Regions from separate parts of the Homo sapiens genome. Here all the other regions are linked to region 1. Evidence: fine-mapped expression QTL. A gene starts in region 1. Each other region holds a variant in brackets. All regions are shown on one strand. Distances are between the middles of the regions.

Region 1 (10,181 bases):
GCAACACAGTGAGACTCCATTTCAAAAAAAAAAAAGGTAAAACTGGCATTATTTTGGTAGCCTTTTTTTTTTTTTTTTTTTTTGAGACACAGTCTCGCTCTGTTGCCCAGGCTGGAGTGCCATGGTGCAATCTCAGCTCACCGCAACTTCCGCTTCCCGGGTTCAAGCAATTCTCCTGTCTCAGCCTCCTGAGTAGCTGGGACCACAGGTGCCTGCCACCACACCAGGTTAATTTTTGTATTTTTAGTACAGACAGGGTTTCAGCATGTTGGCCAGGCTAATCTCGAGCTCTTGACCTCAAGTGATCCACCCCCTCAGCCTCCCAAAGTGCTGAAATTACAGGTGTGGGCCACCACGCCCGGTCTGTATCCTTTTTAAACATGGTTCTTAATTTCCAAATTTTTCTTATACATCTTAGTCACCTATACTATATATGTATTGCATATATTGTATACTATATATGTACTGCATATATTTACCCTAATAATCACTATTTAATTTTAAAAATTTCTTAAGATGAGTTTTGGCACAAGTTAAAGTTGAAAACTTAAGTAACTATGACAATGTCCCGACTAAGAGCCTCAAAATACACACGAAAGAGGGAAAAAAATCTGTTAATCCATTAGAGATAGTCATTTTTCCACTGTTGAGAGGTAGAACAGACCACATGTTAAATCAAGTCACAAGAAATACACAGGCAAACATACATATGTGTGTGCATATGTGCACACACTTACAGGAATAACATTACTGATAATGGAATCTCATGTCTTAGCTTTTCCTTGCCTTCTCTTTGTCAAAGGAGGAGAATTACTATGTATTCAGAATCATGATTCCTGTCATTGGAACAGCTGGAGAATACGTCATCCAACTTCTTAAATTTTCTAAATGAGGAAACTAAGATACACTGAAGTTAACGGTTCTGCTCAAGGTGAAACAACCAGGTAATAACAAAATCACAACTAAAACAGACTGGCCTCTCAATCCATTAGTAACACCTTTAGAAACAATCACAACACTTGATTAATACAATTATTTAGAGTGCTGACTTCTTAAAACAAAAAGAAAAAACATACAGTAATTTGATAGTTTTTTTTCCCAGAATAAAAAAGCACAAGCAGTATATTTGGACTTCAGTTCTACACATACTTACTTAAAAGCGGATAAAACCTAACTTAAGTAATAATTATCATGTGACCACATTAAAGGGACAGCTATATACCTTTTTAAAATTGAAATGTTAATTAGTTTTTTAATTACCTTACATGAGCATAAGATAAGCAATAACATTTAGAAACATAAGGAGTAAAATCATCCTGGATAAATACACCATCCCTGTACTATAACATACTTTTTTTTTTTTTTTTTTTTAATTGAGATAGAGTCTTGCTGTGTCACCCAGGCTGGAGTGTAGCAGTACAATCTTGGCTCACTGCAACCTCTGTCTCCTGGGTTCAAGTTATTCTCGTGCCTCAGCCACCCCCAAATCTGAGACTACTGGCACATGCCACCACACCCGCTAATTTTTGTATTTTTACTAGAGACGGGGTTTCGCCATGTTGGCTAGGCTGGTCTCGAACTCCTGGCCTCAAGTGATCTGCCTGCCTCAGCCTCCCAAAGTGCTGGGATTACAGGTGTGAGCTACCATGCCCAGCCCATGCTTTTTAAAAATGCATTTCATGGGGATTCAAGACTCCTAAAGTCTTGAAAAAAGCAGCTTTTTACCTAATAAAATATTACATTGAATAGGTTAAAAATTATATAGTAAAAAAAAATGGTCATCTCTGATAGGGTATACTGAAGCATTAGAGAGCTAAGATCTAATATCTCAATCTGAGTAGTAACACCACATACTTGACTGTATGTACTGTTTGTATGCTATACCTCAATACGAAAGTTCCAAACAAACACATAAAAAATAAGAACAAAACAAAATCAGAAAGCCAGAAAAACATACTTAACTCTCATAGTATCTGATCTTGATTGCTCTGTAAAGGCATCATTGCCAATTTCTTCTAAGGAAAGGCAAAACGCACACTAGTCTTTTCTATTTCTAGGGTCAGAAGGGGCTTGTAGGCTATTAAGGTACAAAGACAGGGCTCTAAAATGTTACCTTAGCAATACTCAAGTAGTTTTGTACATATGGAGGCTGTCTCTCCATATAAGCTGAAAGATTTACTGAATGCCTAACCTGGAAGTGGCCTACTAATTGACAGGATGAAAAGAACAGTGACTGTTAAAAAAAAAAAAAAAAAAAAAAAAAAAAAAAGAACCAGAATATTAAAAATTGTACTCGAGTTATTTAAATACTTCTGTCAAAAACATCCCAACCAGTGGTTTACTCAAGTTCAAATCATGCAACAATGCTGACTCCTCCTTTCTTTCTCCTTACACCTAATTGCCAAAAAGACCCTATTCAATTTCCCAGTACTGCCCATATTCTTTCCTATTTCCACTGTAATCTATCTAGCATAAGCCTTTACTACCTCTTGCTGGAGTACTGTAAAGTCTTCTTAATTCTAGTATTTTACTCTTCCCAAGAAACAACATTTTTTATTTTGTATTATGGTTATTTCTATACCTTACTTTGCCCTGTACAACCCTTCTCTAGAGTATTTTATTCATTTGGTACCTTCAGTTACCATTTGCAAAGTAAGACTTGAAAAAAAAGTTTGATTGCTTCATTATGAGTAGAATGATCTGAAAAATTATGATGGTGAACAATCACTTCATTTAAAGCTGATTTGTCAAGAACAAAACTCTCAATCAAAAGAAAACTTTCTCAAATGAAAATTAGCCTAAATTTTCTGAAAAATTATAAGAAAAAAGAGCCAGAAAAGAGACTACAGAACGTGTGGTACTTGGCAGGGAAGGAAATAGAATCAAGGAGATACTCTATCAGTATGTTGTGAAGAAAAATGATATTTACCATTTGGGACTGTCAGTTTTAGGATATACATGAATAAAAGTTGAGAATAAATTTCATAAACTGCCCTAGTAACCACAGCCATCACCTTTCCAAATATTGTTAGTGTCATTGTTTTATAAATATTTGCCAACTTGAATAACTTCAATGCTAACTGGAGGTAAAATTTAAAGGTTGTTTTTTTTTTCCCAATAAAAAATAGAAACTGGGTCTTTTAGTGATTACAGAATAGAATTCTCTCCCTAGCAATCAAGAATATCCTCATTCTGCAGAAAACTTCCTTTTGTGATTAATAAAAGAGGAGAACTGATACTCATTGACTGTCTACTATGAACCATGCACTATCAAAATGTTAACACACAACTCAAAAAGCCATCTTATGACATAGATACTATTGTCCTTGTTTCATTGAATTAAACACAGAGTAAGCACATCCAGTGACTCCATTCAAACCTAGGTATATTTAATTCAAAAGCCAAGAACATCTCATGAACAAGGAACATTCTTAATAATTCAGTGATACTACCACTTCCAAGATAAATTTTCCAACCAGTTGCACTAAAATAGGGAAAATGCGATCAAGCCACACTTTGATTTTATCAATCACACTGACTGGCAGGCAGGAATATCCTTTGAGACCTGTATTTACTTAATGTCCCTATTCATCTAAATGAATATATATTAGCACCTACTATGTTTCAGTCGCTACTTTGGATTTGGAAGCTGGGAAATACTACCAACTCCGCATGGGGAAACTCTGCGTTCACTCCCAGTTGTCATGAGCTTGCCCATAAACTTATCCCTGAGGAATGCAAGAAACTAAGGAGGCAGGACGTCCATCAGTCTTGCTCATTCTGGTATTTATAGGTCTCAGTCAAAGCCGGGCACATAGTAGGTACTCAAATATTTGTTGAATGGAAGGAAACTAACATTCCTTGAGCACTTGAACGCTCAAGACAATGTTCGATCACCTCACTGGAATCCTAAGGACAACCAAAAGAGGTAGGTTTTTCACTACTCCCGTTTAATAGATGAGGTTGACAGACTTAGATTCACTTACCCAGGATTTAAAGGGACTGACCCGAAAGCCCAAGGCTCTCCCTACATCATATCCTACTTAAGAAACCTTTTAATTGTGTGCACATTGCCTCAGTGCGATTTTTGAAATGCCCTCTAGATCACCAATTTGATAAGTATCTTACGCTACTTTACACTTTAGTTGCTTTAAAACACTTTCTAGAACGGAACAATGTTAATATAATCTAATCTTAACATTAAATTTCCTTAAAAATTACAAAGACAAAAATTTGAGGTATATCAGAATGAGATTCAAAACTATGAGGCAATGTATCCTCATTAAGGCTTTTTGAAGAAATGACAACTCTAGGAAATCAAGAATGAGAGCTCTGCCATGTTAACGGAAAAAAAATACAATTAAAAAAAGAATGCTACATTAGAAACTGATAGATCAAATGTATTATATCTTTTCTTGTTGAAATTCTCGGTAAACTGCTAGAGGTCCTTTCAAGTAGCCTCAATACATCACAATTCACAAAACAAGCAAAGCCAAAATCTATGTTCGGTACATACTAAACAGGTGCTGTATTTCTAAAACTCTATTTACGAATCTTTTCATACCAAAATTTGAAAACCATATGATCTAGTACAGTCCAGAATATCCTCAAACTATAACTCTCTGAAGTGGGTTAGAAAATATTACAAAGCTCCCAAAATAAAATTTACCTGAACTCACTTAAATTTGATAAATAAAGGTTTGAGCAGCGGCCCGTAAGAGAAGGGGAAACAGAAGCGGAGTGTGAGAGCTGGTAGTAAAATCGAACATTCTGTGCCATGTCTGGCAACCGAGAGTCAGGCCCTCAAGTATGTGACACCACTGGGGCGGTTCCGAAGGCGGAGTAAGGTCTCCAGAATAACTCAAAAGGAAAGAGTTTCATAACTTAAGTGGTTTCATTTCAGATTACCCACGTGAAATTTGTTGATGAAAAAAAAATCATACCCACTGCACAGATGAGAAAAACAGGAGCGTTTTCAGGTTATACAAGCCGACGCCTGGCGCCCGGCGTGACGTGAAACGCTCTAAGTTGCTGGAGCTGGATACCAGGTGAACTGAGATTTAAATTGTGGAAAAATCGGCCTGGAGAGGTACAAGGCCTGTAGACGGAGGGCAGTAAGGTCACGCAAATTTCCCTGAGGAAGGCGGCTTTGGAGGCTGCGTGCTTTCCGGGCCGGTACCCCACAGCCCAGTCTCCCACGCGTGAGCGGAGCATGGCGAATGCTGCACGCCTGGGTCCCGCTCCCAGTCGCAGTTTCCTCACCCCAGAGGTCACCCTGACCCGGAAACAGTACCCAGAGCAGCTGTCGGGCGTCGAGGGAGGTCTGGTGGAAGGGCGAAAGGAAGGTGGGAGGGCGGGAAGTGCGCGGCTAGGCGGAGGGCCGACGGCGAAGGGCAGACAATGCCCCAGAGGCTAGGGCTGGGGTCGGGATGGGGGTAGGGAGAGGAAAGCCCCTCCCAGGCACGCGCGAACCGCACACACTCACCTGCCCCTCCCCCTCCCCGCCCGCCCGGCGGAGGCTCCGAGCTGCCGCGGGCCGCGCGCGCACACAAGGCGCGCTCACGCGCGCTGCCTGTCTCTTCCTCGAGCTCGCGCTCCGCCCGCTCACTCCCAGCCCCGCTCATTCAAAGCCGGGCGCGCGCTCCGTAGCAGCCTGCGTTGCCTCTGCGCAGCTGCCATGGCCGCCCCTTCATCGGGAAACCCGCCCCCAGCCCCTCCTCTAGCCCCGCCCCCAGCCCTCCTTGAAGGCGGCTCTCGGCTGTCTCCAGGCCCTCGCTTCTGCACTCCGCCTCAGGTCCTGGCTGGCCCAATAGGTGAGAGGCTACGGGTCTGACGTCGAGACTGGGAGCCAATGAGCCCTGGGAGCGGGGCAAGCGGCGACAGGCACGCCAGGTTCGGTGAGGGGTAGCTTTTTGGGACTATTGCGAGCTGCTTTGACTGTTTATTCTCGGAGCGCCTGCTTCTGCCAGATGTCCCTACTTTCCTTCTATGCAGAGTGCCTCCCCTCCAGCAAAGTCCCTTTCTGTTCAACCCACAGAACCCCTGTGTCAGATGCGACCAAGGAAAATACACTGCAACAAATGAGGGATCTCCCTCTGTCTCAGGAAGATTTGGATGTGGCTAGACAGACCCCCTCCCCTCAGTCATTCCGCCACCTCAAAGATGTGGAATGCTGAGTTTAATTCAAGACGTAGCCTCCTCCCAGTAATTTTTAATTGAATTGTGTTGAACTAGAAATGAAGAAGTGGCACTTCACCGTGTCCATGCATTTGTTCCTCACATGCACCCTGGACTTGCCCTTCTTTCAACCTGAGATGTTCTTTCCTTCAGTGCTTCTCTCTTTGCAGCCTGATTCTTCTTTTTATCTTGTATGCTATGAAAGGGGTTGTTATGTGCAGGGGACCCTCAGAATACTATGCTCCACAGTTGCAAAGTGACTGGTGAGGGAGAAGTGAATAGGGTCTAAGGCCAAAATCAGTTTATGCAAATTGTTCTCAACAAGCCTTTTTCTTTATATGCCTTTAATTTTTTTTTTTATTACAGCTGCCTTTGTTCTCCCACCCTGACCCAGCAACCACCTACCCACTTAACTTTGTGATAATCTACCACAACCGTCCTCTTTCCAATTTGCACCACGTTTTTTATTAATAATTTAATTTCCAAGACGGGAAAGATGTGTTTATGGCTCGTGCTCTGGAATGGTTCTGTGTAAAGTTGGGTAAAATTATTTAATCTGTTCACCTCAATTTCCTCATCAGTAAAATGGCCATAATAGTGCCTACTTCATGCAGTAGTAATGCTTGCAAAGCTCTCTTAGCACAGAGCCTGGCACATAGCAAACATTCATAGATAACAGTTGTTGCTGCAGCTACTACTACTACTGCATTACTATTGCATTACTACAGTATCATTTCCGGTAATTGCATTTCCCAAAGGCCATGCAACCCCTTTCAGTCCCTTAAACACCTGCTCTAACTTTAATCTCTAGAATTCTAATGCCTAAATTTCAATATAAAATTTCTAAATTTTTTTTGGATTTAAAAAATCGAGTTATCTAGCTGGGCACGGTAACTCATGCCTGTAATCTCAGCACTTTGGGAGGCCGAGGCAGGAGGAACGCTTGAGCCCAGGAATTTAAGACCAGCCCAGGCAACGGGCGAAACTCCGTTTCTACAAATAATTTAAAAATTAGCCAGGTTTGGTGGCGCATGCCTGTAGTCCCAGCTACTCAGAAGGCTGAGGTGGGAAGAATCACCTGAGCCTGGGAGGTCGAGACTACAGTGAGCCATGATTGGGCCCTGCACTCCAGCCTGGGAGACAGAGCAGGACCCTGACTCAAAAAAAAAAAAAAAAAAAATCCAAAATAACCTATATTCGGATATAAACGTGTTTAAATTTTTTTTCTTAAAGAGTTGATTGCTTTAGACAATTTATTATGCCCAAGGATATTTTCTTCTTTTTCCTGATTCTTCAGTTTTCTTTATTAAATTTGCCATTTCCAAATGAAACAAAACGAAATGTATATACTTTTCCAGAAACAGCTAGTTACTGAGTACTTGTTTCCCAACACAATAGCAAAACAGAAAACAAAGCTCGCTAAAGACTGCAAATTTAAAATTTACTTTAGTAATACCTATAAAATAATATTTTAAAATCATCTTTACTTGTTAAATAGTAAGCCCATAATTGGGATCACAAGTCAATAATTTGGGATTGGGTTTAGGGACCACCTCTTGGGAACAGGGAACTTTAAGTCCTGTCCTCTCCCCAAAGCTTGTGTGGGACGGGGGTAGGAAACCACCAGATGTCAAATGGGAGGAACATAAGGGATAGAACCTGGCATATGAATTTCTTTTACTCAATGGAATATAGTAAATTCTGTCTGCTCTGTGTCCAAACCATTTTGCTCACTTTAACGCTTCTGATCAGCCTCTGCCCAATTACCAGCTTGATTTATTCACACTATCAACCTCCAGCCCACCACTTACTCTCCCCTTTCAAAGCCTACATAGGCTTTGTTCTGACTTCTCCAGCTGGGGCTAACTCTGGCCTTGTCACCTGACCTGGCCCAGGAGGTAGGAGCAGACTGCAAACACAGCCCTCTGCTTCCAGATCTTTCCCAACCCAGTTCCCTGGCTTTTCATCAAAGGGTGGGTTTTTTTTCCCTCAAACACAATTTTAGACCTGCTGTTCTGACTTGGACTTTAATGGCTTTTTATTAATGAGCAGCTGTTCACAGTTGAATACAAGATCATAAAGTCACATTCATTTCTTGATCAAGTAAAACAAAGCTTTGCCGCACATAGAGTGACATCTTTGAGCAGATACATTTGAAAGCATAGGATTTTCTGATGAGAATTTTAATGAATTGTTTTATTAATCTTCCTACTGGAGAATTTTACTTGCTTTCAAAATAATAAACATTAATATTCTGGAAAATTATAACTTCTTTTTTAATACTCAAAATCACCATATACTAGTTAGGGTCAATTGCCTAATAGAGAAATCAAACAGTCTGAAGCAGATTTTTTATTTCTTTTCTATTAAATGAAAATTAACTTTCTATGAAGCATTTAAATAAATTTTTCCTCATAATTGTTATTACAATTAGCAGTAACTTTTATTGCTAAATACAGGAAGATTCAAAATTTAGTAACAATTTAGAGTTAACCAGTTTTCTTCAGAAGGGGCCTGGTTAGAAATCAAGAAAAATAATACATATATTTTAGTAGAAATAAATTCAAATGAAAAGATGAGGTGAATTCTCATTTTGTGTTCAGTGGTGAGGTTCAGCCACATCATACTTCTGGCTAATGTCCACATCGTTATTAGATTTATGACAGAGTTCAGCTATATTATGAATTAAGTAGAGTTGATGGGAACAGCATCTGGCAGTCTAAGACCTTTTGTTATTTCTAACAGTAAATGTATTGAAATTCATACAACCAACATAAAACAGTAGTTTGTAAATCTATCTTGTACATGGATTGAGAAAGTAGAAATAAAACAACATGAAACAATGTGAGACTCATTCATTGAGCTACAGCATGATGGACATCGTGACTTTGACCTTGAACAACTTTAAGCCTCAGTTTTCTCATCTGCAAAATTAGGTTAGTAATTCCTGCTTTACGGATTTATTTTGCAAATTAAATATCATACCATATGTGGAAATGTGTTGGAAACACAGCAATAAAATCGGTGAAACCTTTGAAGCAGGCAGATTTGTTATCTTCAAGATCAGTACAATCCCCTTTAGCTCACAACATGGAATAGTGCTTCCAAGAAATAGAGGTGAATTTTATGTCATCAGCAACCAGAAGTAGACATGTCTACTAGCAATATATTAACAAAGGGAAACAGGGAGGGACAGCCAGAAGTCAACCCTCCATACCCCCGCTTCTACCTTCTTTGTTCCCTTCTTTGTTCCCTTTGTTTTAAAGGCATAGGATGAAAGAGCAGCTGTCAGAACTATGACACTTACAATCCTTCCCCTCTCTCTCCAGGCTTTTATGTACTACTCATGGGATATTTATTTCATACCAAGATCTGTTGCCAAGTTTTGTCTATTCTTTCTTCTCAGTGTCCATCATTTCAGCACATCTGGATATCAAAATGATCTGCTAACTTAGTCTTTTGTATTTTACTATTTTCCTTCCTCTAAGTCAGTTTGTTACTTTGCTGTCTGATTAATATAAATATTGTTACACCTTCTTCATAGTAACTGACCTTTTTAAATTTTCCAGTGTCTAATTCAAATTCACTTAGGAGGATATGTGTCTTGATTGTTGCTTTTTAAACTCTTAATTTTGAATTGTTTGTTTGGGGATCTCCCTCTAACCACCCATGCCCTTTAAGACATACCAGAAATTCTTGTTAAAGGAGTTGGTCTATGTATACTGTACATTTCATACAGTGAAAATTAATTTAAATCTATATTTTGTACGTAGTTCTTATTTGAAATTAAATCCTTTAAGGATTACTTTCACTTGAAAATTGAACTCATAATCATACTAGAAATTTTTGATGTGAAAAACTTAATAAATTTATTTTCTTCCTAAGAATTTATAGCGTTTACATATATAAAGGATCATCTGCCTAAATGCATAAGTTACTGTAATGAAAAACCAAAGGAAAATACTATTGCCATGTAGCCAGGCACAGTCATAAATATCTTGCAC
Region 2 (10,181 bases), 57 kb before region 1:
CAACGCCACTAAGCCTTCCATTTCTCCATTTGCTTTTGTTCTCACACTCCCTACAGATGCCAGAAATTGCCAGAATTTACCCAGCTTATTTGTTTTATTGTATTGACGTTTGTGCTTGCAAACGAAATTTACATGAAAGATTACACAGACACCTGTAATCCCAGCACTTTGGGAGGCCAAAGTGGGTGGATCGCTTGAGGTCAGGAGTTCGAGACCAGCCTGGTCAACATGATGAAACCTGTCTCTACCAAAAATGCAAAAATTAACCGGGTGTGGTGGCATGCTCCTGTAATCACAATTACTCAGGAGGCTGAGGCAGAAGGATCACCTGAGCCCAGGAGGCAGAGGTTGTAGAGAGCCGAGTTTATGCCACTACACTCCAGCCTGGACGATGGGAGTGAAACCCTGTCTCAAAAAAAAAAAAAAAAAAAAATTACACAGAGGTTAAATCTAGTATTGATCTTGGAGTACCTCAATCCATTCTTATCAGATTATCCAATTCTTCACAAATTCTTCAGGCAATATATAAGAGACATTGTTCTTTTCATTTGATTGAGATATTTCCCATTTTGTTTGCTTTTCCAAACATACGTATCTCCACTCAATTGTTCTTTTATGTGGGTAGCACTGCAGTCAAGCATATGGCATAAGATAAAGGTGTTTTTTAATGTTTAACTTGACTTTATCCTTTTTCTATTTTTAATCATTTTGTCCATCTGGAGTGTCAAATGATTTTGAACCCATACAGTTAATTTTGTGGAACCTAAGAGCTACCTGGAAAGGGTCTCCTTTTTCAGCATTCCTTTTCCCTTACCTTATGACCCATCTCCAAACTGTAACAGTCACCTGAATTCCCCACCAGCCTCCAGTCTCTCCTTCAGATATTGCTGTCATGTTGTCTTCATAAAGCATCACTGTTCATGTTACCACCCCAAACAAAACTCATTATGGTTCTCTCTTGCCTTCAGTATGTCATAGTTCCCTCTTGCCCATAGCATAATTTTTACATTTTTCAACTCTCTGGTTACAACTCACCTTTTTGGCTGCATTTTCTCATATGATCACTATATTCTAGCCATACAAGGGACTCCATATATGTACTAAACATGCCCTGTGTTTTTCTTCCTCTGTGTTTTAGTTCATGTGATCTCTTTCACCCAAGGTCAACTCCTGTCCATGCCCCCAACACTATATTCTTCCTGGTGTATCAGGGCCATCTCAAGTGTCATCTCTCCCATGACATATTCCCCTGCCCTCATCCCTTCACCCTAGCTAAGAAGATTTCTTCCTCCTCTGTGTTTTCTGGGTGCCCGCCCTCTCTGTTTGCACTCATTGTATTCTGCCTTATATCCTGGTTGTTTGTCTGTATAGTCTAACTCCTCCTAGGAAACCCTTGAGCATTGGAACTGTTTCTCCATGCCTCCCCCATCCAGTGCCTTAGCCTAGGAAGTGTTTAACGCATAGTTGAGATGGACTAGATTGAACATTGTTGTCTTGGTTTCCTGATCTTAGATCTTTGTGAATTCTGATCACAAGGATCAAGCAGAGTGATGTCAGACAAGCCAGCTCTGCTGCTTAGTAGCTCTGTGATTTGGGGTGAGTCTCAGCATCACTCAGAACTTTGGTTTCCTGGTCTTTACTTGTATGTCTTTGGGAGGAAGGATTAAAGGAAATAGCAGCTGTAGAGTTCTTGGCAGAGTAGGCTCTGAGTCCACAGTGGCTAGTGGCATTATTATCTGATGCTGTCATCCGATGCATTAGTTATCCCTTCAAGGTTTTGTGTAATCAGGAGTCTGCCGCCAACACCACACCATCCATGATTTCATTCATGTCATTAATAAAGCATGTTAAATAGGATATGGACAACACCAGGGCCAGGTGATGTGTTACTAGAGATTTCCCTAGAGGTTGACAGACAGTCCATTTGTCAACATCCCGTGGGTACTGGACTGTGCTATCACCCAATGCACACATGTCGACCTTGTTCATAAGAGTATCCTAAGTGTTTGCATTAAACGTCTGCTGAACTCCAAATATGTGATGTATGTGGCCATGTTAACTCCTTCAGAAAAGGATGTGCAGATTGTTTTTCACATCTGAGCCAGTGAACTCCTGCTGGCTCCTTCTTGCCTTATTAAAGGACTTTCTCTACAATTTTACTGGAAATCAACACCAAACAGCAGTTTGTGATTTTCAGAATTTATCTTTTCTCTATGTTCATGACCTGCAGAGTTTTTGCCCATTTCCAATCTTCTACCTCCCATCCTTTCCAGTTTCTCAAAGTTAATGATACCATTTCTGCAATCATATATGTAAGTTCTTTTGGTACCTTTCTTCCCTCATTCATTAAATATTCTTCTGAGTCTCCTATAAGCCAGGCTCTGTGCTCTTGGCTCTGGGGATGCAGTGATGAACAAGACAGAGGTCTTTGCAGTTAGCGTGGTTTTTGCATGCTGGTATCCTGGGCTGAAAACTTGACTTTTAAGAGGTTTGGGCATACAGGCTGGAAGTAGGAGTGGAAGGGAGTATTTTTGTCCTAATTGGAAATAACATCAGTCTGTCAATCCAACCTAAAGGGCAAAATAGGAGAAAGAGGAGCTATCCCTAAATGCCAATGGTGGAGAAACTTTTAATGCTGTGAAATAACATTTCAAAACAACAGCACCTACTCTGTGCTAAACCCTGTGTGACACATGGGGATACAAAAGAACACGCCCTCAAGGAGCTGACAAGCATACTGGAAAATATGTTAAAGCAAACAGGCAATTGCAGTGCAATGTGATAAATACTTGTTAAATTCTTGGTGGGGTCAGATAAAGGAGGGCCACCTAATCCCCTTCCTGAAGGAAGTAAAGCTCAAGGCTAAACTGAGACCTGAAGAACAGGTAGTAGTTAGCCAAGCCCAGAGGGATGGGAAAATAATCCAGCTAGAGGGAACAGCATGTGTGAAAGCTGGGAGTCTAGAGGCTATCGTGCCTCCTTCAGGAAACTGTGAATGGTTCCATTGGCAGTGGTTATGGTATGACAGTCTGAAGAGATTATGGAGGGTTTGTAAATCGTGCTAAAGAGTTTGGACTTCATGGACACAGGGTGCCATTGAGGAGTTTCAACAAGGGAATTGCCTAATGAGGTTTCTTCTCTGGAGTAGTGTGGAAGACAAACTGCTCAGGGCCACAAGGAGCAGCTGGGCACAGTGTGATGCTGTTTCAGTAATTCTGGGTGAGAAATGATGATGGCCTCAGGTGGAGAATTCAGGATGGGAAAGAGCAGACAGATGACACAGTTACTAAACAGACAGATTTGAAAACAAGAAGCATTTGTTGTAGTGATTTCTCAACATTACTGTGCGTAGAAGATCACCTGGGCAATTTGTGAAAATGGATTATGAGGCTGACTTAAAGAAATTTCAATCAGCAGATCTGGAGTATGAGTCAAGAATCTGTATTTTTAACAAAGAGGCCAGGTGATACTGATGCAGGTGGTCCTCAGACTGTACCATAAAAAACCCTATCTATTTGATGTTTCAAATGGCAACACTTCTTTAAAATGTATTTCTGTTATGTTAACTTTTTGCTTAAGAATGAAGATTCAATCCTATTATCTTTGTCGAAAGTAGATGAATGACACAGCCCCAGGGTTTACTGTGCAAGGGCAGTCTCCTTGCTAGTATAGTCTGTGTTCACTAATTGTTTGCTCTCTGGTGGGGGATACAGAATAGAGTAGTGATGATTTCGTTAAGACTTTTTATTGCAGATTGTTTGTAAATGTGTTTTCAAAGGTTTCAGTGCAAGCAAACACTTTGGGTGGGATGGGGGGTGAGGGTGGCAAAATTGCCCCAAGTCTTGAAGTTCCACGCAGGTATACTTTCCTGGTGTTTAAGGCACATTTTGAATCTTATTGTGATGTTTCAGATCCCCACATAAGGGCTGTGTGACCTTCAGCAACTTACCTGTTGTCTACTTTCCTCACCTGTAAAATAGGAATAATAATTGTACCTCTTTCATATGCTTGATATGAAGATTCAATGAGAATGCCTGTAAGGCACTTTGAACAGGGTGTGAACATAACAAGCCATTTCTAACTATTCCCGAGAGAAACTAGGTCATCTACAACTTATCACTTGTATTTAGAGTTTAGTCACTTAATAAATACCTTTCCTTCTTAAATCACATTACTTAGATAGTCTACAGTGCCCATATGGAAGAATTATTAGAAAAATTTAGTGTTTAGCAGCACACATACCAAACACGTGGATAAGTAGGCTAATGATGATGATGATGATGAGTATTTACTGTGCACTTACAGTAGTTCATATTATGGCGTTTAATTCTCACAAAAATTCCATATGATAGGTACTCTTTTAGTCCCTTTTTACAGTGAGTAAACTTAGGCATAGAGAGGTTAAGTGATTGCCTGAGGTCACACTGTCATTAATGAAAGAGTGGATATTTGAGCCCTGAATCTGCTGATGCTAGCACCTGCTCTTAACCACAGCTGTTAAAAACATATTGTCAATTACATGCAGCATGGTTAGTACCACTCAGTATTATGCCAAGTAAATTAAGCAGTTCACTCATTTTGGATGTGAAATATGTAAAAATGTTCCCAAAATATATACTACAGTGTGTATCTGTATGTCAAATTACAGTCAAGCCGGCTGCTCTCACTTTGTCAGAGGCAGCCATTCAGGAAGCTGCTGGGGGATCTCAGGCATAGGCCTGTCTTAGGGCAGTGGTCCTCAAACTTTAGCATCTATATTCCTGGAGGGCTTATTAAAACATATATTACTGGGTCTCACCTCTACCCATAAGTTATTTAATCTTACAGAATGTCACCTCTGCTCCTAAATTAGTCATCTTCTCATTCTTCTGAAACAGTGACTCTCAAAGAGTGGCTCCAAACCAGCAGCATCAGCACCACCTGGGAAACATGTTTCTGACTCACTGAGGATGGTTTAAAATCTATCCCATAATTGCCTGACTCGCTCAACAGACATTTAACTTCACAAAGACATTTTGAAGTGACAAGTCATCAGCTCTAACACATAGATGCTTAGATAAAAATCAAAAGATAGAAATTTTTACTTTGCCTGTAACATCTAAAAAGCATAGCAGTTACTTCCTCATATAGACTCAAAAAACTTTTTTTTGAGACAGGGCCTTACTCTGTCACCCAGGCTGGAGTGCAGTGGCATGCTCATGGCTCACTGCAGCCTCAACCTCCGGGGCTCAATTGATCTTCCCACCTCAGTCACCTGAGTAGTGGGACTATAAGCGCATGCCACCATGCCTGGCTAATTTTTTTTTTTTCAGAGATGGGGTTTTACCATTTTACCCAGGCTGGTCTCGAACCCCTGGGCTCAATTGATCTGCCTATCTCAGCCTCCCAAAGTGCTGGGATTACAGACGGGAGCCACTGCACCCAGCTTTAATATAGAGACTTAACTGGTGGCTTCTCCTTCTCCAAAACAGTGGGGCTTGCCTTAAAATGATGATCTTTTCTTCGCTTGCAACTTGGAATTAGGCCTTGGAATTAGGAACAAGTTCTGGGCTGCATTAAACACCAGCACATACCGTCAGGGAAGCTTTCCCCCATCACTCTTCCTCCCCACTTTGGGACAAGAGGTTTCTCCCTCGATGAGGTTGTATGCATAATCCAGCAACTCTGGGTCAGCTTCTCATGTTCATGGGCCCATCTCCTTGCCAAGTCTTAAGTACAGGGTTGTGAAGTGACCTAAGCCAAACTCAACAGGGCATCACGTAATTCCTGATCTTTGAGGGCTATTCAGGGTCAGAGCTACCATGAGACAATGGGTCACCTTAGGCATATTGGACCCTAAAATTGGAATAAGGTAAAACAGAGATTCTAGTTTTACTTTTACTCTTCATAACTACTTTTAATTATTCATAATGATAGGAAGAAGGGTAAATAAAAGTACAAATCTGTAAGGACAGGTGATCCACAGAGCATTTCTTTTTGCCTATGGAATACATTATTAAGAGTAGATTTCCTCTTGATTTTTCTTCTTAGACTCTGGAAATGCAAATACATGTTTATCAGAATGGAAAATCTAGCTAAATGAGTAACTGGAATAAAGTCAACTCATTTTCTCATTATCGGGAGAATGAAGTATAAATTATGGATAAAAATCACACACTCTAATATTATGTAGCAGTCAAATGAACACACTACAACTATATGGAGAATTTTCGCAATATAATATTGAATGAAAATTGTCCCAAAAGATT[G/T]TATATACATCATGATAACCTGTTTTATTTTAAAAAGTTAAAAACAAATAAAACAAAAATCCTCAAATTCTACCTTTTAAAAATACATAGATGTGATCATTCTTTGTAAAAGTGAACGCAAGGAAATGGTGAACAGGGGATAAGATAAAGGAAGACCACATAAATGCATGTAAGTTAGTGTCACTGTTCTAGTTTTTGTGATGGATTGGTGGTTTCTTCATTTATTATATTAAACATAAACAAAACATAAATACCTAAACAGAGCAGTCAGTAAATAAATAAATTAAAGATAGCCTTGCATGGGCCAATGATGACAGAATGTCAAAAACCAAGAATTATGATTAATCCAGTTCTTTGTATCTGAGACTCTTTTAAAAAATACATTGAGAGAACAACTTTCTAGGTCATAGAGAAAATAATGAAATGTCATTCACGTATAGAAAAATAGTTCCATGCTTAGTTTCGTATGGCACTCTCTGACCTGCCACTTCCTCACCTCACACGTCAGCAGGTTCAGCCTCTAAATGGAGATCAAGAAGGGCACGGATCAGTAGACCATTAAGGGTTGTCAGTGGAATCACTTCAGACAGAATTGTGGCTGTAGGATCCCTAGAATAGGAAAAATATGTGCTTCCTTTTCTTTCATTTTCACCTCTCTGAGTAAGGTAATATGTTTGCATATTTTATTAGAGAAGTGAAAGTGGGAATTTTAGAAAATGAAAAAGACCTGTGTGTCAAATATGAGCAACTCTTAACCTGACCAGTGGCAACCACTGGGACCTGTGTCTAAGGAAGGTTTTAAATTCGCCTGCCTCCAAGTTCCCTTTATTGCCTCATTCCCTGCTGTTGCTTCTAATTCTTTCAGCATTACCATCTCTGTGTGCTGTTCCCTTCACACTGTGCTGTCTCCACAGCTCTGCATGCTACAGTCCTGAATTGTTGTAAATGGCTTCAAAACCTGGCTAGTTCAGTGTGCCTCCTCCATGAAGTCTTCATGCTTCCAGCAGGAAACAGTCTTTCCCATTGTTGACCTCTCTTAGCACCTAACTTGAGTCCCTCCTAAGACATTTGCCTCTCTCTGAAGGCAGGACTATGGTCTCAGCCCACGTGTGCTAGCAAAAAGCTGGAGAACACACAAATATGAACTGATGTGGAGATAACAGCTCTCACCATGTGTTATTCGTGAGCCACAGACCCTATAAGAAGGGTTGGGTCATTAGCTCCCTGTTGTTTAGTGTGCTGCAGGCCTTCCTGTGAAATTGGGATATTCAGTCAATACAGCTAAGGAGGATTTACTCACTGACTTATAATCTAAAAGAAGAATTTTTACCATCCTCTGCCAGGACCATCTTTTATTTTTTTTATTTTCATGCTTGTTTTGAATCCTTTCTTGCCACTCACACTACACAACAGCCTCGCCTCATTCCTTGTCACTGTTCTAAGTTCTTCCAGATTTTGGCCTCACATGTTTTGGGACCTTGATATGGTTCAAAGAGGGTAATCATAAGAAGAAAAGTAAAAATAATAGTGAAATTTTAAAGTGCTTACTGAGTGCCAGCACTATTTTTACATGTTTTACATATATTATCTTACATCATCCTTACAACAACTCTATGAAATAGATACTATTATTATTCTCCTTTCATAGAAAAAAATGAAGCTCAGAGAGCTTGTCTTTCCCAAGGTCACACAGCTAGCAACTGAAACTACTAAACCATATTATTTTTAAAAAGGCAGAGAAATAACTTCATAGAGACTGAAAGTACAAGTGAGAAAGAGAGAGGAGGGTGAAAGCATGTCAAGATATTGGAAGGGGAGCATGGTTGAGTCCAGTGTCAGAACTCTGCTCTGTTTAAATGCAGTGGAGGTGGAGGTCAGTGCTACTGAGAAAATCCAGGGAGTGAGCCACGTGCGAGACATATGCAACCTTCCTGACACTCTGAGTGCCACTGCCAAGGGAAGAAAGGAACCTGTGGGTTGAGAAGATAGTGTGCCCTGGAAGTTGTCACACAGTGAGGATGAAGATGGGGGTTGAATGGTCAAGGTTGTTAGGTCTTAGAGTCAATTAAGAAAAGCCATGTTTAAGTACAGAAGTGAGTTTTTTAAAAAAAATTATTTTAGGGCCCCATTGGATGTCTTGGCAACGAGTTGTGAATTATGTCATCTGTTTCCCAGTAAGTGGGTGTTTTATTCCATTTGTGGTCTAGAATTGCAAGCAGACAGCACCACCTCACTGAGATGAAGAAGAGTGGAGAATGAGGTGACTCCAAAACATTCTCATCTTTTCCTTCTCCCTTATATTCTGGACTGAGTCATAGACTTAAATCCTAGCCCTGTCCTGACCTTCTGTCTTTCCTGGTGTCTCACTCCCCATTTTTCTCTCCCAGTCCTTCATCACCTCCTTCCTCCCCTATGAATGCCTCCTGCAATGACACCCCTGCTCCGCACCCAGCACCACCATTAGTGCTGCTCTTCCTGATGTAGGTTTTCCTGCCAGACAGGAGGGCAGGCATCTCATTTTGGTAAACACTGGATAAATGCTTCTCCTTAAATAGAAGCAGCAGGCTTTCCAGCTAGTTCTTTTAAGGGGGTAGAAATTCAGTTCACTTCAGTAAATTTGACAAGAAATCAAAGATAAGTCCCATGTACAAGTCTGTAAAATACTTCAGGGAGGATTTGCTCTGTTATTACTTGGTCCCCAACATAATGAGCTAGGATGACATTTATGACCACGGTGGATGTAACCTTTCCCAGACCTGTTGGGTGAAAGGCAGTGGGGGAAGGGCTGCCCGTTGGACATGCCTGCCACTGGAGTGGTTCCTGAGCTGAGTCAGTGTGGGAGATGATGAATGCCTGTGTGTAGTTCCTTTGATGCTGTGAAGCATGTCTGCCATGGAAAATTCAGGTTGGCACTGATGGAATAACCCCAGTGCAGGGTATGCTGGATTGTGAAATGTTATTTCTCTGCTGAATGGCATTTGACACGTTCAACAGCACACTGGTTGGACCCTTCTCTTTTACAACAGGATTATGAGGACTTTGAACCATGAACCAACTGTTAAGTGTCCTACTAGCTTTGCAAACCAACATTTGTGTACATGAGTTTGGCTGGAACTGGCCCAGTTTCAAACAACCTGTGCCTTATGTACATTCTGTCTTTCCCTCCAGTCCTCTGATAATGTATTCACTCCAGGCAAGTGTTTCTGGAGAGCCGTGGGGGTACAGATCATTCTGTAGATTAAATTCTTCTCTCAGAGTGCACTTTGCCCGTGAATTTCTTCCTCTTCCTTTTGCTGGCCTGTCTGTCTTCATTTCTGCTCACTCATTGTTCACATCGCACTGAAGAGAGCTCTTGCAATTTGACAGAACTTGGAGAGAAAGTCCAGGCACTTTTTTACCTTTGGAGCTCTCTTCCTCATAATATGGTTCATGGACCACCTGCTGCACAATCAGCTATAGTAATTATCAAAAATGCAGATGCCTGGGCCACCCTCCTCCCAGATCTTCTGAACTGGAATTTTTGTGAGAGTTTCCCAGAAATCTGCACTATTATTAAACTTCCCAGATAAATCTTCATGCACAGTTAGGTTTAGGAACCACTGCATTATTAATAATAATTTTAAGATTCGTATTTATGAGTGTGTCAAGCACTTTCTATGCATTAACTCAATTCATTTTCACAGCAACCCAATGGGATGGGAATCATTATCTTTGCACTTAAAACAGGATTTGACACATGGCAGGTGCTCAATAACTTTTTGCTAAATAAATAATAAATTAACCTTTTAAAATGTGTGTGTATACATATATAAGTAAGGCTTAGATAAGTTAAAAAAAACTTGGTCAAGATACACAACTAGTGACAGGTGGAGCTGGGCTTTATAGCTACTTCTGGTCAGAAACTTTCACTTCTCCTTGTTTATTGAAGTTTCT
Region 3 (10,181 bases), 23 kb before region 1:
AACTGCAAATATGAAATTATATGGCACTGATATTCAACTACAGTTGTCATTTATATGAAAATAAAAACCAAGCTAATTTTCTTCATATTTATTAAATTATTAGAAAACACAAATGGGTATTATCTACTATAATTTGTAATGCTATCTTCATTAAGAACTAGGAGAAACTTTAAAAGGCATTTTGGCGGCTCATAGTTCCGTCAAGAGAGGCCTTAGAAATCATAGTCTACATAGACTGTTGATTAACCACTATTATAACCTCCTCTCTAAGGTTGCTATTTTCCATTCCATTAATCAAGTACACAATTTATTTTCTAGGCCTTGGTTTCCTTATATGTGAAATAAGGGTAGTATCTCTTACAGGATTGCTAAGAGTCACTGATATAATTAGTCAAAGACTCAGACTTACAATAAATGTTTTCTTTCTTGCTAAATTTCAAGTTCAATTTAAAGGTGTATAAAATACTGCAAGATTAGGCAACTTCTCCCACTCTTTGCAGGGAAGGGGCTGCCAATACCACTGCATGGTGAGATGTGGGAAGTATATAGGGCCTCATACCAACTTCCAATTATTGAGTGCTTATACTGAACACTTATGTACAGTCTCAATCCTTACAACCACCATTTCCATTTAAAAGATTTGCAAACTCTGGCAATTTGTTTAATGCTGTACTACCTCTACAGAAGCTCTGAGAACTCTGGGAACCTCTCAGAGCCGGGGTGATCTGATCAATGTATATAAGGAAAGCATCTACAGAAAGATCCCCTGAAAAGAAGTCCCCTGAAAGGGAAGGCTGGGATTATCTTGGACTGGCCGCAGACTTTCAGTGAGCTTCTCTGCAAAAGTTTCCACTGGTGAACTAGCAGTGTCAGCAGGAGGTATGAAAGGATAGAAACAAATCTGTTGTTGAAGGTAAAAGATGGTCAAGGAGGTCCCTAGAATAGAGTGTTTCTTTCAAGCTATAGAAGATCGAAGGTGTCTGGTGAAAAAGCATTTTACTAGCTCTCAAAACCTACTCTGGTTATTGAGTATGCCCAATGGTCATGACCAAGAGGGATGGAAGATAAAAAGCAGAAGGCAATGTAAAAAAAACAAAAAACAGTTGAGTATAAAAAGAGTACCTAGCTGTTGCTGTAAGCTTGGGATAGTTTTGGTTAAAGAAAAGTGAAAGGAATTACACAAAGAAAAAAATAAATCTCTTCGTATTGTATTAGGACAGAGCAGTTCAAATTTAAAAAAAAAACTATGCAAATGACAAAAACAAGTTTAAGTTATTAGCTACTAAATATGCTCTTCATGAACCCACTATCTTCTTCAGCCCTCCAGTTCACCTGAGAGGGTATTAGCTCCTTCCCTGGAACAATCTGTAGGCTCTAGCCCACTCCCAACCTCCCAGCAGGGATCCATTCGGAACCCTGTCATGTTTGCTTACATGCCTGAAGATTTCCTTTGAGCAAGGGGTTTAAGGAGTATGAAAACCATCGTTGGTTATTCCAAATCTGAACTTCATAGGATCAAACAAGATGAGTATGTTAGCTCTGTCTGGCTCAAACCATCCTTTAGTAAACATACCATTCTCAACAAAATTCAGGCTTTTTGGAACACTGACTATGGTTAGGTTTACGCCATGGTGGTAGCTTGTAGAGTGGTGTTGGAAGCTCGATCCAGATGCTGGTTTCTGTAGGTACCTTCTGCCCAATCACCAATCTTCATGTAGAAACAACCTAGAAATAATCACCCAGAGGCAAGTGCATGTCAAAACTGAGAAATTCGGATGCAGAATTTCAAATTTTCAGTTCTAAAATGTCAACTCAATTAAACATGCTATACTAAAAGAAGAGCCAAGTAGAGAATATCCCTAGGTAAAGCTTAAGAAGAGGAAATGGCTAGAAACCATGAAATTACTACATAAAAAACAAAACAAAACAAAAAAAAACACAAGGTAAGTTTCCCATGTCTTTGATTACTTGTTATCTCAGTACATGAAATGCACGATTTTGCTAATGGTTAAAACTTCACTAATTCTATCTATGCCTACCAGTATTTCTTATTATTTCTAATAAGCATCTAAAACTGACAATTCTTTATTGAAATCAAGAAAACAAAAAATAGAAACCATAAATTTAGTAGCTAAAAGAGACAGTATGCTACCATGAATTGTTTGTCATATGCATTTAACTCAGTGACTACTTTTGGGACCAAAATATACCCAAGTTAATACAGGAATTTAGTTTACACATCAATAGAGATAAAATAAATTCCAGAATTGTTATCTATTCTTTCCACAAGAAAAATCTATTTCTTCCTAATCATACTAACTATAATTGCTAATGTCTTTATTTTTAAATAATCAAAAACCAAAAAGCCAAACAACAACAACAAAAACCTCAAACACATGAAAATCATGACCAAACCAAACTTAAATACTTTTCAGCTACTAGGGAAAAGCAATACAAGTAATTGAGCTAAAGGAAGTTATCCTTTATGAATTCCAAATTTAGAGAAGATATGTTGTATTCCCATAATAACTAACTATAAATACAAAGAAGGAAGAGAATACATTATTAAAACTTTGAGCCCAATTCTATTTAAGTTGGGAGTTTATTAGCAGAAATTCTAATGAATATAATAACTGGAAATATAATTTGGGGCTATAAAAAGCTCTGTACCAAAGTTAACTTTCATCTTATTCTATAATCACATTTAGTCTGAAAGCTTAGGCTAAGGGCTTAAAGGGTTCTCATTGTATAACTTATGATTTTTCTATAAAATATCACTTTAAGTAAAATAAATTAGTAAGGTTTGGCCTGTACAGTATCTATGACATTTCAAAATCTCACCGAATGTTGATTCTAGGCAGTAACTTAAGAAAGTAAAAATCCTTAAAAATTCCAAAATGATAGGAAAATCAGGCTGGATGCATTTCAACTGCGGTGAAAAGGTTAATGGGATTTTAAACTATGAAGTCTACTTTTCCCCTACAGACCCAGTATTTATTTCCTTAAGACTATTTTGGAGCCAATCAACATCATAAATAAAAGATTATTATTCCCACCTTTATGATTTAATGAATCAATAATGTTTTCCTAGCCAAGAACACAGGTAACCTACATAACGTCAGACATCTAAAGCTAGTACAGAAATCATCTAAAGGCTTTGAAATATTTGACCTGATGGCTTTAAGCATTTGTAAATTAATGGCTTTTGGGAGGAAGGAAGAACTAAGGCACTCAAAGATACCACAACATCTTACAATCTATAATGAAAGGAAAAAACTACTAATACTAGTTCTTGAAACTCACAAGTTATAATGTAGAACAAATGTCATTTTAGTTGATTTTCAATGTTTATACATGTGATATAAATTACATGTATGACAACACTAATCCAAAAGAAAATAATGATGTA[C/T]AAAATGTTTATGATAAGTAAAATTATTGCATTTAATGTCATTTTCATGAAATGAAAATCATCAAATTCCTTAATGTTGTATCAAACGTAAACAATACCAGTTCAAATTAGAGGGAATGTATGTCAACACCAACTTTTGACAAAAATAAGAAAGCTAAAGCCCTACAATTTATCTAATTTAGGTCAGGTAACCATGGAAACAAAAGAATATTAAAATTATTTATTTTATCATTATGCACATTGAAGGAAATCATAACAGACAGTACAGTTCTTTTCCACCATAAAATTATATACACCCATTTATTTAGCTAGAAACACTAGCTTGAGAGGTACTGATATATTCCATTTGTGATACTTTCTGTACAGCAAACAAATGTCTTATATTTGGAGCATGTTGAAGAAAACATTGTCTCAAGTCTTTTTTGTTTTTTTGAGTCTCAATCACTAAGAGTTCAAGGTACTTTGGGAGAATCGTGGTGTCCTGGATGGCCTGATCAATGTATTAAAATCAAGCAGTATGTCTTCTTAAAATACTCTTAAATCCATACAAATGTTGCTTGGGTTGTGGAGCTGAGATTTCTCCTACTGGCATGATAAAATTTGAACATGTGTTATGAAAGTTTCACACCAATTTTGTTTTGTTCCTTCTTCATTAGCCGTTGTGCTTCCTTTTCCATTTTCTTCCTTTGTTGTTCGGCTGCTCTCTTTTCTCTGTCTGCTAGTTTCTGCTGTCTGAAAAGAAACATACTTTTACTTTTAGAAAATACCAAACAGGTAAAATGGCAAATAAATTCTAGAAAGAAATAGCAGTGCCTTTTTATTATCACCAAATAAAATGTTGAAAGTCTTAAAATTTTCTCACTAATTTGAAAATTCCAAATATTTTCAAAAACAGGATTTCTCTTAGTCCTTAGAACGTGACTTGTGAAATAGAAGAAATATTATCTCTATTTTACAAATAAGTAAAATGAGGCATAAAGGCTAAGTGACTTGCCCGAAGTCATAGGATTAAGTACAGGGATAAGAACTCACATCTTCTGACACTTCTTATTTAGATTATCTCCATTTTGTAAAACAATACTTCCATTGAACCACATCTTTTTCTGGGGATACCATTCAGAAAAGCTTGATATTGAGCTTGATAATCTCCTGTTATTATAGTAGTTACAAACAGCCAGTTTTTAAAGTGCATGATGAACACAGCTGAACAGAACACACGCTCCAAAAAGAAAATGGAAACTTAAGATACACCTTCCACCAAGTAAATTTCAGGATTAACATGTGACTAACTCTACCAAAGAGAAGAGTGGTGGGTATTTAATCAAATACTGCATGTTCTCACTTATAAGTGGGCGCTAAATGATGAGAACACATGAACACATAGAGGAGAACAATGCATACTGGGGCCTACCGGAAAGGCTGAGGTTAGACGGAGGGAGAGGATCAGGAAAAATAACTAATGGATACTAGGTTTAATACCTGGCTGATGAAATATCTGTACGACAAACCCCCTTGACACATGTTTACCTGTGTAACAAACCTGCACATCCTGCACATGTCCCCCTGAACTTAAGTTTAAAAAAAAAAAAAAAAGAGTGGTAGGTATTTACTAATCATACTTTGTGAAATACATACCTGTTCCTTACTCTTTCCGTAACTCCACTGACCCAGACTCACTCTCTCTATCTTTACTGATTGGTTAATGTAGGGAGTGGAGGTAGGAGTGGGATGATGAAACAGGAGAGAGCAGAGTAAACATACATTGGTCCTGGATCTGAAGGGTTAGGGTGTGAGAAAATCATTCAAGTATGCAACGTTGAGGAAGGAAGCTACAGGTCACAATTGGGCATGGAATAGGCAACATTAGGTTATATGCAGAAAAATCCAAAGTGGATTATCTATGTCTGGGGGAGCTCAATATTAACTACAGTGAGTGAAATGTATGTACAGTTCTCAGTCATAAACAGGAGTAGGCAGAGTTATGGATGACCAAAATTCAAGAAAGTAAAGAAACTATTTTTGGCAACATTTTGACTTTTGCTATCAATTTCTGAAGAATAGTTTTAAAAAATCTGTTTTTCATCACTCTGCTGATGTTCAATAAAAACTAATAATCTGAACTAAAAATGTCAAACCAGAAGAAAAAAGGGAGGTAGAGAAAAAATTATAAAGGGCTGGCTAGGTTATAAACAAGTAAGATAACGAAGTTTTGACCTGGTTACTAGCTGAAATAATATAAGGGCTGAGCATCCCAAATACAAAAATCCGAAATCTGAAATGCTCCAAAATCTGAAACTTTCTGAGGGCCTACCTGATGCTCAAAGGAAATTCTCATTGGAGCATTTCAGATTTTAGATTTTCATATTTGGGATGATGAACTAGCAGCAGAACACAAATATTCTAAACTCTCAAAAATTTCAAAATCTGAAACACTTCTGGTCCCAAGCATTTTGGAAAGGGATACCCAATCTGTATCAAAAACTAAAGTATAAAAGAGACAACTTACGAGATAGCTGCAGACAAAAATACATTTTACCTATCCAGATTCATGCTGGGAATTATTAAAGTACCAGAATCTTCATTCTTAGCAATACTGATCACAGTACTGGCATTATTTATAGTGGCAACAGGAAAAAAGCTCAGAGTTAGACAATACGGAATGTGGATACACTTTTAAAATGCTCAATGTCTATTCAGGGGCAGTAACAATGTACTGACACCTCCATTTCTCTTTGGCTCTACCTATGTACTTGCGGCATGAAGCATGTCTATTACGGATTAACAATCTCACTCTCCCAAGCTGTCCTTAAAGGGTAAAACATTAAGTTTTTAAGTACATTTTTTCATTTGTTTTGCTTAGGGGTTAAGAGGCTAGAATGAAAAAGAAAAGGTTTTTGTACAATATTAAGATACTTGTGAACTCATGGCTTGAACTCTACAGTGAGATTACTGTATTTAAAAAGGACAGACCCCTTCCTTTGTCTTTGTGGTTAATGGCACTAATAATTACTAGAATCCCCAAAATGTCTTAAAATACTCAGACATCTGTATCTATTATTTGTTTTTTAAAATAACACAGAATTTTAAAGAGATGATTTATCTTTTTTGATGATCCATGCAATATCCTAAGTGTTATAGTTCACAATTTAAAAAATATTCCCTTTATAAAAGATAAGCTATACTGATTAAATAAGAACTAAATTTTAAAAACTCTCACAATTTTACTGACTGAATTTTGAAATGTGACGTCCCCTAACCTGCAAAAAAAAAAAAAAAAAAAGGGCTTGATATATTTCAAAGGAAAAAAACAAAAACTTCAAACAAAATTCCCAGTTATTTAGCTGCACCCTCTGCTGGTTGTTCACAGTAACTGTAATTTATTGACAAAGCCAAGAAAGGAAAATACAAAAATGAAATCAGTTTTTTTGTTGAGTCAGATAAAGAATAATTTGTCTGCTATTCCTATGGTAAAAACAATCTCAATTTTAAAATAAAAAAATTTATATTGCTGTATCTTACTACACAATTTAAAAAATGTATGAATTCTTTAGATGCATTTAAATATCTGACTTTTAAAAAGCAGTAATCAGTCACTAGCTCTCCCTTAAGATAAATTTTCTCTTTACTCTTTGACCTAATGTAGCAGTACTAAGAAATATGTTTGCTGCTCACACACAAAAAAGAACAACCAATAAAAATGAACTTTAAAACTTCCAGAATAGTATTTTTTTGCAGAATGGGTAGTTCATCTAACACATAGGGCTTTCATGGACATCATTTAAGATATATGTACAAATGTAGAGTGTCACATAAGTTATTTTCACTCAAATGAGCAGTACTGGGCACTATGCTAGATCATGAGGAAATGGAAATAAAGTTGTAACTTCTGACCTAGAGGAATATCAAGCTTGTAATATGGTATGTATATGCATATAACCTTATATATATATATATAAAACATATATATAAAACCTTTTATATACATGTATATATAACACTCCATTTGCCATTAATAAAGTTATTTTGTTCCTATAGAGCTTAAAATTCTTGGTTTCTGTGAGGTTTTAATCATATAAAATAGTATCTGCAGTCTGAAATACAAAAAAAAAAGTCCTTATTATCTAAGGATCAAATGAAGAAAAATATAATATTTGGCAAAATAGGCTCCCTTGACTTGAAACACAGCAGGGAAGAAATCTAGTTCTTCTACTCAGGTTGCAATATAAATGCCACTCAAATACCTCAGAACTTCTTCTGCTTGCCAGGCTGCATCTTCTTCTTCTTCCCATGCATTGGTATTTTCCTGCCAGGTATCTAAGTCACCTAATTCAGACTACAATGAAAAGTAAAACAAAATTAAGAGAGTAAAAGCCATCCTTTCTCCACATAGCCGTTAAAAAGAGTATCTTTTAACACATAACTCAGAACCTGTCATTCTCCTATGTCTTCTCAGCTTCCTTACCCTGTCCTATACAAGGCACAGATGATTTTGCTTTTGGCTTGCCTAGAACTGATGTATGACTTTCAGTGTTCAACAGTCCTAGGCAAGGCCAGCTTTCTTCTTTATGTTTCATGGGATACTCTCTTAAATTCTCTTCTTTGCTGTACTTTATTTTGGAAGGAACAAGAACAGAACATGTCTTTTGTTTCTTTCTCTCCTCAGTAAGATGAGGGAGCTGGGGATAGAGTGACAAGAAACTGACTGATCCCAGACTGAATTAGAAATCCTTGACTGGACTAATCTGTGCTGAGAAGAACTGCGAGCTGAAGTTCAAAAACTAGCACAGTCATTCTTCATTTAAGCATATGTAACTTACTGGAGATTTTTTATTGGCACTTACTGTCTCAATCCTAGGCAAAAATGACAAATCATGCAAAATTTATCTTTAATGAAATACTTCTAGGTCATGCTTCCTTTTCCCAGTCTTTCTTACCTGGTATCATCTACTGGTCCCTACCTCTATTTCCCAAGCCAGACCTCTAAAAGTTCACTGTTTTCTTTCAATAACCAATGAAAATGGTCATGCTGGACTGTTTAGGTAGGTGTGGAAGTGACTGTGTGTAAAATAACTGGTACCAATCTGTGAACACATTTATTTAATATCATATTGTTTTAAATACTTACCCCTAAAAATGAAATAGAATGTTTTGAGTTTTCTTCTCCTGAGAATATATGTAATACCATACTCTGTTAAAAATTCTTAAAATATTTCTAATTATTTAATATACATTTCTGAAAGGAGGATTTTTAAAGCTACTGAAACAAAGTGCAAATGACAGCCTTGAAAAGTACCAAGTTATCCTCTTGACCGCAGTAGGTAGAAATCCTGCCTTTTCTTCTCCCTTTTTTTTTTTAGGAATCAGCGTTTCACTTTGTTGCCCAGGCTGGAGTGCATGGTGTGATCATGGTTCACTGCAGCTTCAAACTCCCGGGCTCAAGGGATCCTCCCACCTCGGCTGCCCTAGTAGCTGGGACTATAGGCACATGCCACCACACCTGGCTGATTGTTTTTTACATTTTTTTAGAGATGAGGTCTAGCTATGTTGCTCAGGTTGGTCTTGAACTCCTGAACTCAAGTGATCCTCCTGCCTCAATTTCCCAAATTGCTGGGATTACAAGTGTGAGCCACTGCACTCGGCTGGCTTTCTTTTCTATCTTTACTAATTTGACAAGATTTAAAATTGTATCTTGTTATTTTACTTTGTTTTGTTTGAGACAAGGTCTCACTCTGTCACCTAGGCTGGAGTGTAGTGGTGTGATCACAGCTCACGGCAGCCTCGACCTCTTGGGTTCAAGCAATCCTCTTACCCCAGTCCCTCCCAAGTAGCGAGGACTACAGGCACGCACCACCACACCCAGCTAACTTTTTAATTTTTGTAGAGGGGGGATTTCGCCATGTTGCCTAGGCTGGTCTCGAATTCCTGAGCTCAAGTGACCTGCCCGCCTTGGCCTCCCAAAGTGCTGAGATTACAGGCATGTAACACCTCACTGGGCCTACTTTGAGCACTAATAAGATCAAGCTTTTCTTCAAATTAGGTTATGTCTATTTCTTATTTGTAAATTTCCCATTCATATTATCTATTCTTCCACTAAAGTATTTGACTGTTAGAGTACATAAAATATTTAGATTTTTTTTAAAAAGTAAAACTATAGAGACCATTAAAAAGGGTGGTATCTGATCCTTTAGTAGAGATGGCCTTAGTAAAAAGGAAAAGGGGGAAACCATTGATAGATTTGTCTACATAAAAACTAAATACACCTGCCCAACAAAAATATCCAAACCAATTAACAAACTAAAAAAGTATAAAACATGACATTTATCTTTGGTATAAAAGAACTCTCACAACAATACGAATGATGAATTCTAGAAAAGAATAAAATGTGTAGTTTAAAAGAAGAATCTAATTTGTAGAATGAATGGTAAGATATTTTTGGTATAGAAAACAAAGTCCAATAGGTTACCATCCTCTCCTATGCAATGCCCCTTTATTCTGTCTGCTTGGGAGGAAAATACGTGGAAATAGCAGTGGAGACATTCTCCATCTACCCTATTTACCCCTTCTCAACTCTGTAAGTAGTTGTATATTTAAAACTTTACAATGAGCTATGATAGTATTATAATTATATTTAGGTGGCAAATATTGCTAATTCAGTGGGTGGGATTAAAGCATTTCACCAATATGGATCAAACATTTATGAATAAAATTTAATTTTGAGATATATAAAATAAAAAACATTATAATGCTATGTTATTCAGCTAAGTATTTATGG

Which allele goes with the higher level. Positions count from the first base shown, and alleles are read on the strand shown. Sizes are in standard deviations (SD) of each study's normalised expression. Not every link is listed here.
As copies of C replace T in region 3, the expression in skeletal muscle of the gene that starts at base 5,232 in region 1 goes down (large effect, 0.82 SD a copy in FUSION).

Evidence for each region. PIP is the estimated chance that this variant, and not a neighbour inherited with it, causes the effect. A credible set is the group of variants that fine-mapping cannot tell apart.
Region 2: its variant is the best candidate, but not a certain one, in a credible set for the expression of EBAG9 in lung (TOPMed, PIP 0.63).
Region 3: its variant is the best candidate, but not a certain one, in a credible set for the expression of EBAG9 in skeletal muscle (FUSION, PIP 0.56).

What each region holds. Positions count from the first base shown.
Region 1 is chr8:109,535,224-109,545,404 of GRCh38, reverse strand. It overlaps EBAG9 (estrogen receptor binding site associated antigen 9), which reads right to left and starts at 5,232. Exons shown (of 7, transcript NM_004215.5): 1 at 4,944-5,232. EBAG9UORF reads right to left here and starts at 5,679. Exons shown (of 1, transcript NM_001436381.1): 1 at 5,605-5,679. The coding sequence starts at 5,679. The coding sequence ends at 5,605. It overlaps PKHD1L1 (PKHD1 like 1), which reads right to left. Exons shown (of 78, transcript NM_177531.6): 78 at 8,198-10,181. RefSeq lists an enhancer at 4,864-5,223 and a silencer at 5,284-5,833.
Region 2 is chr8:109,592,682-109,602,862 of GRCh38, reverse strand. All of the region lies in intron 3 of SYBU (syntabulin), which reads left to right. Among named protein-coding and RNA genes, the nearest start is that of SYBU-AS1, 46 kb to the left of the region's middle. RefSeq lists an enhancer at 7,226-7,305. The variant G/T (reference allele first, on the strand shown) is at 6,249.
Region 3 is chr8:109,558,399-109,568,579 of GRCh38, reverse strand. It overlaps EBAG9 (estrogen receptor binding site associated antigen 9), which reads right to left. Exons shown (of 7, transcript NM_004215.5): 6 at 7,651-7,742; 7 at 2,584-4,141. The coding sequence ends at 4,021. Among named protein-coding and RNA genes, the nearest start is that of EBAG9, 23 kb to the right of the region's middle. The variant C/T (reference allele first, on the strand shown) is at 3,410.